Homo sapiens: one gene and its partner. The protein of the gene in region 1 interacts with the protein of each later gene in a biochemical or structural test. Each region holds a gene or a part of one and is shown on either strand. Other genes may lie near its edges.

What was found.
Region 2: of the proteins of FLI1 (region 1) and PRKCD, one has a biochemical effect on the other in vitro, tested with the Homo sapiens proteins (one study listed by BioGRID).

Annotation. Positions count from the first base shown.
Region 1 is NC_000011.10:128,699,876-128,704,768, forward strand, and holds part of FLI1 (Friend leukemia integration 1 transcription factor), read left to right. Parts: intron 1-4,893. UniProt on the Homo sapiens protein: Sequence-specific transcriptional activator. Recognizes the DNA sequence 5'-C[CA]GGAAGT-3'.
Region 2 is NC_000003.12:53,166,722-53,171,614, reverse strand, and holds part of PRKCD (protein kinase C delta type), read right to left. Parts: intron 2,913-4,893; exon of another isoform or gene 2,833-2,912; coding exon of another isoform or gene 2,795-2,832; intron 1-2,794.

The sequences.
Region 1 (4,893 bases):
TGGTGGTACCTCAGTCTCAGGGGCATCATAAACTGACCAACCATATGAAGGTGATTGCATGTCTGTTAGGCAGGGACTAAACTATGTTCTGTGAAGATAGAACCCCAATGGCAAAAGGGCTCTGCCAGGAGATCTAGCGAGAAGATAAGCCACATATGTGTGCCCTGCAGAGCACAGCAAGTGTTACCATAGCCCTGAGAAAAGAAAGGATGATTTGAACTGGAGAGACAGACAAAGACCTCATGATAATAGTTGTTTATGTAGTCCCTTTCATAAATCTCTTCACAGATCATACAGTCCCTCCACAGATCACTGGCCCACACACTCTTGCATCCCATTCTCACAGTAGCCCTATGGGAGATAATACCATGATGTCTCTACTTCATATGGAAGAAGTTAAAGTTCAGAGGAGTGAGGTAACTTGCCCAAGAGTATAACTAACAGGGGACAGATCTGGGTTTCAAGCCCAGTGTTTCTCATTCCTGATTCCTGCTTTTACTACACACACTGGCCACACTGCCTCTTGGCACAGGTGGATCTAAGCCTGGCCTTGAAAGATAGGTAGGTCTTGCATAGGAAACTATGGTAAAGGGCTTTCTAGGAGAGTGGAGGGTACTTTGGGGAGGAAAGTGTACAGGTGATGGAGAGGATGGGAGTGGAAAGACTGAATTGAACTAGACTACAGAGGACCTTACATACTATAACAAAGAATTTGGGGGTGAGTATGGTGGCTCATGCCTGTAATCCCAGTTCTTTGGGAGACGGAAATGGGTGGATCACTTGAGCCCAGGAATTCAAGACCAGACTGGGCAACATGGAGAAACCTAGTCTCTACAAAAACTACAAAAATTAGCCGGGCATGGTGGCACTCACCTGTAGTCCCAGCTGCTCAGGGAGCTGAGGTGGGAGGATCACCTGAGCCAAGGGAGGTCAAGGCTACAATCAGCCATGAGCGCCACTGTATTCCACCCTAGATGACAAAGTGAATACCTGCCTCAAAATAATAATAACTTGGGTCTTGTAACATGTATAGAAAGGAGGAATGAAAACTTGTGACTAGAGGGATGATCTACATAGCTGTACAAGTCTCTTAGAAACAAATCCTTCGTACTCTCTTCTCCTTAGGAAATGAAGATGGAAGTGGCTCCATCACTTATCAGAGGCCACACAAGAAATGAGCAGCAGTCAGGATTAGACAACCAGAGATAGATTCAGGCAACCAGCAGTGCTGTCTTCTGTCTTCAAAGACACCTGTTGATTAAATATGGCATTAGGGGAGGGAGGAGAAACTCTATTTCACCAGATGACATAAAACTGTGATTATCCTTCTCATCCCTTCCTTCCCAGGGGATTTCACCATGAGCAATCTTTTCAATTGGGCCTTCTATCCTGGGCTACAATTTTAGTTCCTTTTGAGAATGAGTCAGCAGATAGTGCTTGAGAGGAGAAAAAAGAAAAAAAAAAGTCTCTCTAAAACTCAAATCAAATTTCTGTGGGCCTTCAGACAAGTCTGACATTCTTCCATGAGTTGGCTGGGCCGCTGGTCTCAGTTAGGAATACTGACACTTCACCCCAGCAAACCAAAAACGCAGAGACTCATCACCGTCATTCCAAGTAGGATCAGAGATGGAGTGTTCAGACGCATTTTCAGATAATTCAGATCAACTTTACAGTACCTTCAAAATTGCTCATCCCTACAAAAATGAAGCAAACACTAATGTATTTAAGAGATTTGCCATCTTTGGGAAACAATGTGTCTGCCATTTAGTTTAAGATCAAAATCTCAGAGTATGAGAATTTTTCAAATCACCTCAAAGGGAAGGCAGACTTGAACACTGAAATGCTTTCCCAAGAGCAAGCCCCATTTACCCAGCCAGTGCTATGTGTCCAAGGCAATGAAAGATCTTATGTCACATCTCAGTGCACACATGCAAGAGGCTGGAATTACAGGTGCCATGGGAGCTTTAACCTCGAATTTCTAGACATTGTGTGGGTTTCACATGTCTACTGGAATCTAACACTCCAGTAGCAGAATTGTTAGGTCTGAATATATGGGTATTCATTGATGTTATGGGAAAGGAATCGGAGAGTGAGCAATTCTGCAGTACCATTCATGTAGCAAAAGTGTGAAAACAAACAGGTTAATATTAGAAAATTACTCTGCTCATGAGTTGTTTTAAGTTACTGCTGTTACAGTCTATGGAAAAGCGTATGTTTCAATTGAAATTCTCATGTCTACAGAGTCATTTTGTCTTTAGACATTTATGACTGAATTCATACTCATTCATGTATTCAATACTCATTCATGTATTCATTCACCCAAATGTTGAATAATATTACCAGGCACCAATCTCAATAGAGCATTCATGTAAATGAACAAGAATAAGGTTTCTATGCTATTTCTTCCAGGCTTTGAGAGAGTAGACATTTCTCTTCTTTCTGATTTTTAGCTCTGAGTATTGGAAATTCCAAAAGAAGCAATACTCATTGGAGAAATCTTTATTTGTGGCTTATAATCATAAGGATGGTTAGACACATTTTCTTAAAGGTAACAACCAGTTTATATTCTCCATTGCCCCTTCACCCTTGGTGATATAATTTACTGTAAGGATATTTTTGGAAGGCTAGGTCTTCAGCCAAGGATATTTCTTCTTCTGATTCTCCCTTTCTCAGCTTTAGTTCCTCTATTTATATATTAACATGGGGCCAGGCACGGTGGCTCACACCTGTAATCCCAGCATTTTGGGAGGCCAAGGCGGGTGGATCACCTGAGGTCAGGAGTTCAAGACCAGCCTGGCCAATATGGTGAAACCCTGTCTTTACTAAAAGTACAAAAATTAGCTGGTCATGCTGGCGCATGCTTGTAGTCCCAGCTACTTGGGAGGCTGAGGCAGAAGAATTGCTTGAACATAGGAGGTGGAGGTTGCAGTGAGCCAAGATCGTGCCTCTGCACTCCAGCCTGGGCAACAGGGCGAGATTCTGTCTCAAAGAAAAAAAAAAAAAACATGGAGAAAAATACCATAGGTAAGGTGAAAACTAAATGAGAAACGGAGAAAGAATATTTATCATACATAAAGCATAAATGTCCTATCATACAAAGACTACTTACAAATCAATAAGAAAAGACACACCACTTAACAGAAAATAGGCAAAAATGCTATGAATAGACAACACTAGAAAGAAAATACAAATGGGCAATAAATAAATGAAAAGAATTTCAAGCACATGCATAAAGACATTCAAATAAAAATAATAAAATTCCAATGTTTATGACCTAGGAGGACAGCAGAGACTAAAACAGCTTAATGTCTCATGTTGGAAAGAGTAAAGGAAATGTCACTGTCTTATCCTCTTGGTAGGAGTATGACTTGGTATAATCTTTCCACAGAGCAACATCTATTTGAGAAGTTAACTATTTACACAAATTTGATAATGCCAATTCTACAGCTATGTTCACTCAGATATATGTACAATGTGTTTATTGTAGCATTGTTTGTTACAGCAAAAGTTGGAAATAATCTAAATGTCCACCAGTAGGGGACTAGATAAACAAAGGAGGAAAGATTCATGTAAGAAAATGCCATGCAACTACAAAATGGGATAAAATCAATTGTCGTATACACTGATTTAGAAAATTCTCCAATGTATATTATTACATGGAAAAAAGCAAAAAGTTCCAAAATATTGGGCCGGGCACGGTGGCTCACTCCTGTAATCCTAGCACTTTGGGAGGCCGAGGCTAGCAGATAATGAGGTCAAGAGATTGAGACCATCCTGGCCAACATGGTGAAACTCTACCTCTACTAAAAATACAAAAATTAGCTGGGTGTGGTGGTGCATGCCTGTAGTCCCAGCTACTGGGGAGGCTGAGGCAGGAGAATCGCTTGAACCCAGGAGGCAGAAGTTGTGGTGAGCCGAGGTTGCAACACTACACTCCAGCCTGGGTGACAGAGCGAGACTCCGTCTCAAAAAAAAAAAAAAAAAAAAACAAACGTTAAGAGAGACACAGAAACAGACTTGTAAAAAGGTGAATGGGCACCAAGATTTTATCCTGAATGTGCTGGTCCCGGTGACTTTAAGATTCGAAATTGAGGTAAATGCAGGGAGAAATTGGCTGGCCTAGGATCCGGAGACCTGAGTTCCAGCCCCAGCTCTATCCCAAACTAGCTATGGGATGTTAGGCAAGTCACTTCACTTCCTCATCATTCATGTTAAAGGTCTTCTCATATATAAAATGAAGGTATGATTTCAAAATTTGCTTTCAGCTCTCATGTTCATTTGACTCTGATCCTAGACAGGCTTTAAAACATTTCTTATTTGGGGGTGTGGATGATAGAACCTCACGTAGATGTTCTATCTGATCCTGTGTGGCTCTTCTCCCATAATCTCAGGGCTACATTTTGTACTGTGGAGTGACCCTCAAGGCCAGGTGAAGGCAGGGGCTCTCAGCAGGTGCTTGGTGAGTTTCTCCGAGCTGGTTGTTTTTATTGCCAAGTGACACTAGAACTGTGCTAATCCCTTTCCGTTAATGCAAACTAAGAATAGGGCCTGACGCCACTCTGGGGTCTTAGATTCTTTTCCGAAATTTGGTCTCATTTAAAACCCAAAACACTCTTTGGCTCCAAGCGTCTTTCCCGTGGCCTTTAAAAAAATCCTGTTTAATTGAAAGGAAATTGAATTTGTCTGGTTTTGATTCATTTACACTTAACTCTTCTAAAAACAATAATTTGATGTCCAAGGAGAATTTTGAGTCTCTTAATGGGTTTTCTGGAAGGCTTTGTTTCTTCTTGTTAAAACAGGAAGTGGTGTTCTATGGGCAAACACAGTCAACCCCAGAAGGCCCCAATTCAGTTTGAAACTGTATCACCCACCATTTTGCATGGGTCCTCATGA
Region 2 (4,893 bases), on another chromosome or scaffold:
CCACACCAGGCCCATGGAACTTACAGCCTGGTGGGAGCCAGTCACATAAATATGTGATTACAAAGGATGGTAAGACCTCTGTAGGATGCGCCACGCAGGCAGTGAGTAGCAGGGAGTGAGGGGGGCTGGAGGAGAACGGAGGCTGCAGGGACCTGTTGGCTGGGGGCCTTCGATCTGAGGGGTCAGCAGGAGCATAATGGCCTGCCCTGCCAGAGGGTCTGGAAGGTTCAGAGGGGCAGGACTTGGGAGCCTGGCTGTCATCGGCTCACATCCACCTCTGCCAGCTTGTGTGGGGTAGGGCCTCCTTGGAGGGAGGCCACCAGGCACAGGCCTCGAGTCACCAGCCAGCCCTAGGATATGAGGAGTCCTGGGCTCAGTCAGAGGGCGGTGCCCCAGGTACCCCTGAGAGAGGAACAAAGGCCCCTTCATGGCAGGAGCCAGAGAGCCAGATCCTGTGAGGACAAGGGGCCTCTGTGAGGAGCCAGGGTGGGGGATGCAGCCGGGCCTCTCCACGAATAACCACACGTGTGCACACAGGCACACTCGCCAACCCAAACAGCACATAGGGAGCCCCACTCGACATTAGACACACACGCACACAGTTGGAGCCACAGGTACGTACACACACTGCTGTGATGACACAGGGGCACACGTACACACACACACACACACACACAGAAACACACATGCACTCACCGGCTCTCACATCTCAACAGATACCCGGGCCCACACAGACCACACCCGACCACATAGGCTCCACACGCACGTGGAGTGCCACAAGCTGTGATGTACACACTGGCACAGAGATGCTCCAGGCAGACACAGAAACAAACATACAGTCCTGGAAGGACCCCACATCCCTGACTAGAGTCTGGCACCATGAAGTCCAAATGCAGCTTTTTCCACCACAGCCCCCAGGCACAATGGCTGGGGAATGGAGGAGGGGCAGAAGGGCAGCTGGTGTCAGGCTAGGCTGGGCCTTTCCACCCAGGGAGACGAAGAAAGTCCCTCTTGATCCAGAGCAAAGTCTAAAGTGTGTAAGGGAAGGAGTGGGCTGGTCAGGCACATCACTGGGCAGGCCTCCGCCCGCCCGCCCACCTGCCTGCAGGGCCCTGAGGCTATGGTGGAGGTTGAAGGTCACAGGTGGCAGTCACAGGCCTGGCGCGCAGGGGGAGGGGAGGGCTTGAACCTATGTTGGTAGGGCAGCAAGCCGGGCACCCCAGGAGCAAGTTCCTTGAGCTCCAGGCTCACTGTGCAGAAACCGAAAGAGAGGTTGAGCAATTCAACCAAAGCCACAAAGCCAATGGGGCAGACCCAGGGGGAAGTGGGGAGAGAACTTCCAGCTCTAGTCCTAGAACTGCCCATCTGGCCTCCAATGGGGTGAGGGTATGTGTTTGGAGATGGGAACAGCTCCTCCATCAGCCCCCAGTACAAGAGCCCTACTCCTTAGCCCTTCTTTCTCCCACAGAGTTCCCACGATTTTCCAGATGGTTTACCATTGGAAACAATCGTTTTGTGTTTGGGAGAAGGCAAGATGGCCACCTAACCCTTTTGCCAGTCATCCCCAGGATCTGGGCAGGATCCACATGATGCTTCCCCACTTTGGGGATATTGAGAAAGCTGGGAGAGAGGCAGGACCATCCCGCATGGTGCGCCATCCCACAGCAGGCAGCGGACAGAGGAACCGGCGAGCTTGGACCTAGACAGGCCTAGCTCAGATCTGCTGCCTGGGTGCTCCGCGATCTTGGCCCAAGTGCTCTGGTGTCTTCCAGACTTCCTTGGAAAGTGGGAAAAGAGGCTCTGTTAAGCCCCCCAGCCGCAGGGTGCCCTGTTCTGGCCTGAGGCTCTGGGCAGAACTGGGCTGAAGCAGGCAGCATGAGTCCACTGGCAGAGGCTGGCCAGCTACTGCCCCTCCCGGGGCTCCAGCCTCCCTGTCTCAACAATGGAGACCTCTAAGCTTTCTCCAGCCCTGACACTGGAGGACCCTGGGATCCTCCTCCCACCCCAACAACCCCAGCCCACAACCTACACCACGCAGACATCTGATCTAGCCTCAGGCCTTGGCGACTGCCTGCTCTGCTCTGCCTGTTTACCCAACACGGCCATAGACATGATCCAAAGCTTCCGGAGCTGTTGTGAAAACAGCGGCTCAGCCACCACAAGCCTGCCCTCCTGGGTGCCTTGGCAGAGACCTTTGAGGGACAGCCATCCCAGTCCTGTTCGTGGGCCTCTCAAATGCTCCCCCACCCCTTAGAAGGCCTGTTGAGCCCTCTCCTCCCCAATCCTGGCTTTAGGCTCCCGTCTCTACTTTGGGCCCAGACCCTCCTGAACTTCAGGCTTGTGGCCCCACCTGCCTCCCTGGCTTCACCACATGAATGACTCCAGAAGAGCTCAAGCCTGCCCACACCAGTCCCCCGCCGTTCCCCTCCCAGCGCTCCTCATCCACTAGGAGTGCACGAGCTCAGGCAGTGGCTCAGGCCAGACAGCTCCCCCTGCTCCCCACACAATAAGGCCATCCCGTCTGCCGCTGCAGCCTGTCCTCAAGTCTCAAATCCTCTTCTCCCACCACCACCATCCCCAGGCTCTGCACCTGTCTTCTGACTGCTCTCCATCCTCTACCCCGGCCCGACAGTCCCCCTGTTCCAGCCACCAGACGGGGCTTTTCAGACAGATTTTGTCACCCCCTGCCCAAGCCCCCAGTGCCTCCCATTGCCCCTCTGACAAGCCCAGACTCCTCCCCTCAGCCTGCTCCATGCAGCCTGCCCCCCGCCACCCCCCTCCCCATCACCGTTACCTCCCTGACCTCTCGGGCAGGCGCTGCCTTTCCCTCATTCCTGTGCCCCAGCCACGCTGACCCCTTTCAGTTCCCGAAGCAGCCAGTTCCTTCCCGCTTAGGAGCCTCTGGGCTTGCTGTTCCGTCTTCCTGCTCCACCCCACCCCACACAGTGGCTCCTTCCCATCGTTCATGTCTCACAGGACACCACACCCCGTGATCTGCCCATTTCACAGACGAGGCAAGTGGGGAACGGTCCAGTCCCTGGCTCAAGTGTGCACAGCCAGTAAATATTGAGCAAGGATTCAACCAGGGTCTGTCTGATGCCTGCAGAAGTCCTGCTCCTAAGCCTTCAGGATACCCTCAACCACACTTCCCGCCCAGGCCCATCCACCTTTCGCTCTCCAGCCCTCAGGCCCCTGCTGTTTGCATCACTGTCCTTACCACTCCTCAACACTCCTCATCCCCAGCCTCTGGGCCCCACACAGTGAAGGCCAATGCTTAGCCCAACCCTAACTGTGCTGACCTTCTTCGTGTCCCTGGGACAGGCTGGGCCCTGCCCCCAGCTGCCATGGGTGTAGGGGGTTTTCTAGCTCCCCCTACTCTTCTAGCTTCCATCAGTCCCAGATGCCCACTCCCTGCCCCAGCCCACAGGCTGACTCCAGGGGTCTGAAGGGTAAGCAGGCTGGCAGGAGGGCTTACGTCCACCCCCTCGTTCCCAGCCAATTCTCCCAGCCTAATGTCCTGCAGGAGGCCAGAGCTGGAGAGGGCCAAGGGGAGCCCTGAGGGGGCAGCAGGCAGCTGCAGACTGCCTTTCCCCTCCCTGCATCCATTTGTCACGAGATCTATTTTCTCCCTTTGAAAGGGAGTGAGGGGGAGAAGAGCAGGCAGGGGCTGGACTGCTGAGTGGGTGGAGCTGCTCCAACAGGAGCTCCTCTCCTCGGAGGGCATGGAACCTACTGAACAAGTAGGGCACTGCCACTGGAGGTAGAATTGAGGGGGATGAGGGAGTCAGAGACCTGGCTCCTCAGCCAGGCTCCACAGCCACCTGGCCATGTAACACTGGGCCAGTGCCCAGCCCATCAGATAATAATACCCCCTCATCAGTCCCACTTGCTATTTTTTGAATAGTTCCCATGAACTGGGCTCTAAATGCTTTACATAACTACAGTTTCTACTCATTCAACTCTGACAATGCACTAAGCACGATGCCAGCTACTTTGCATATGTTATCTGTCATTTCCGCACAACCTCATCAAGATGGATGCTATCATTATCTCATCTGTCAGGGGGAGACTGAGGCACTGAGCGGCAGAGCCACTTGCCCAGGTTCATTCATAGAGCTGCTGGGAGCTGCCTAGTCACTAAGATGCAGCCCAGCCATCACCTCTCTCAAGGGGGCCATGCCTACCAGAGTTGATGCTCTTGAGCCTCGGCTTACAGGCTCAGAGCAAGAAAGGAGCCACGGTTGTGGGGACTGCAGGGGACTTCGTGACCTGCCCCCTGCCCTTCTCCTAGAGCCCCCCAAAAAGGCCTGGGCAGCCCTGGCAGTGAAAAGCCTGGTCAGTCAGCCTAACCCGGTGGCCAGACGCTGCTCCCCTGGGCAGGCAAGGCAGGGGCGGAGCAAGGCGTAGAGCCACTGACAGAGGGCTGGTCAGTCCCACTCCAAAACCACTTCCTGGGCAGCTCAGAGGAAGTAAGCCTCCGGAAACGCCTTGAACAGATGGGCCTCTCTCCTAGGCCCAGGCTTTGGGAAGTGAACAGACAGCCCCTGCCAACCTCTCAGTCCCTAGAGCCCAGCAACTCCACTCCCTCTAGGCATGGACACCGTGGGGGACACAGGAGTTGATAGGACCCCCACCCACTGTGAGCACCTTGGCCCCATGGCCAGACAGCCTACTTCCTCTGCTGTAGCAGCAGGCACACAGTGCTGGCACAGCTGACACAGCCTCTCCCCCGCATTCATGCCTCCCATCTCCCATGCCAATCCCTGGTCGGCCTGGAGCCTGGGGCCAGGTGGGCAGGGTGGCTGCTGAATGCATGGGCAGAGCCCACCTACCAGGGTGGCCCAGCCCCCCTTACTGAGATCACAGCCACACCTGGAACTTGCCCCTCAGGTG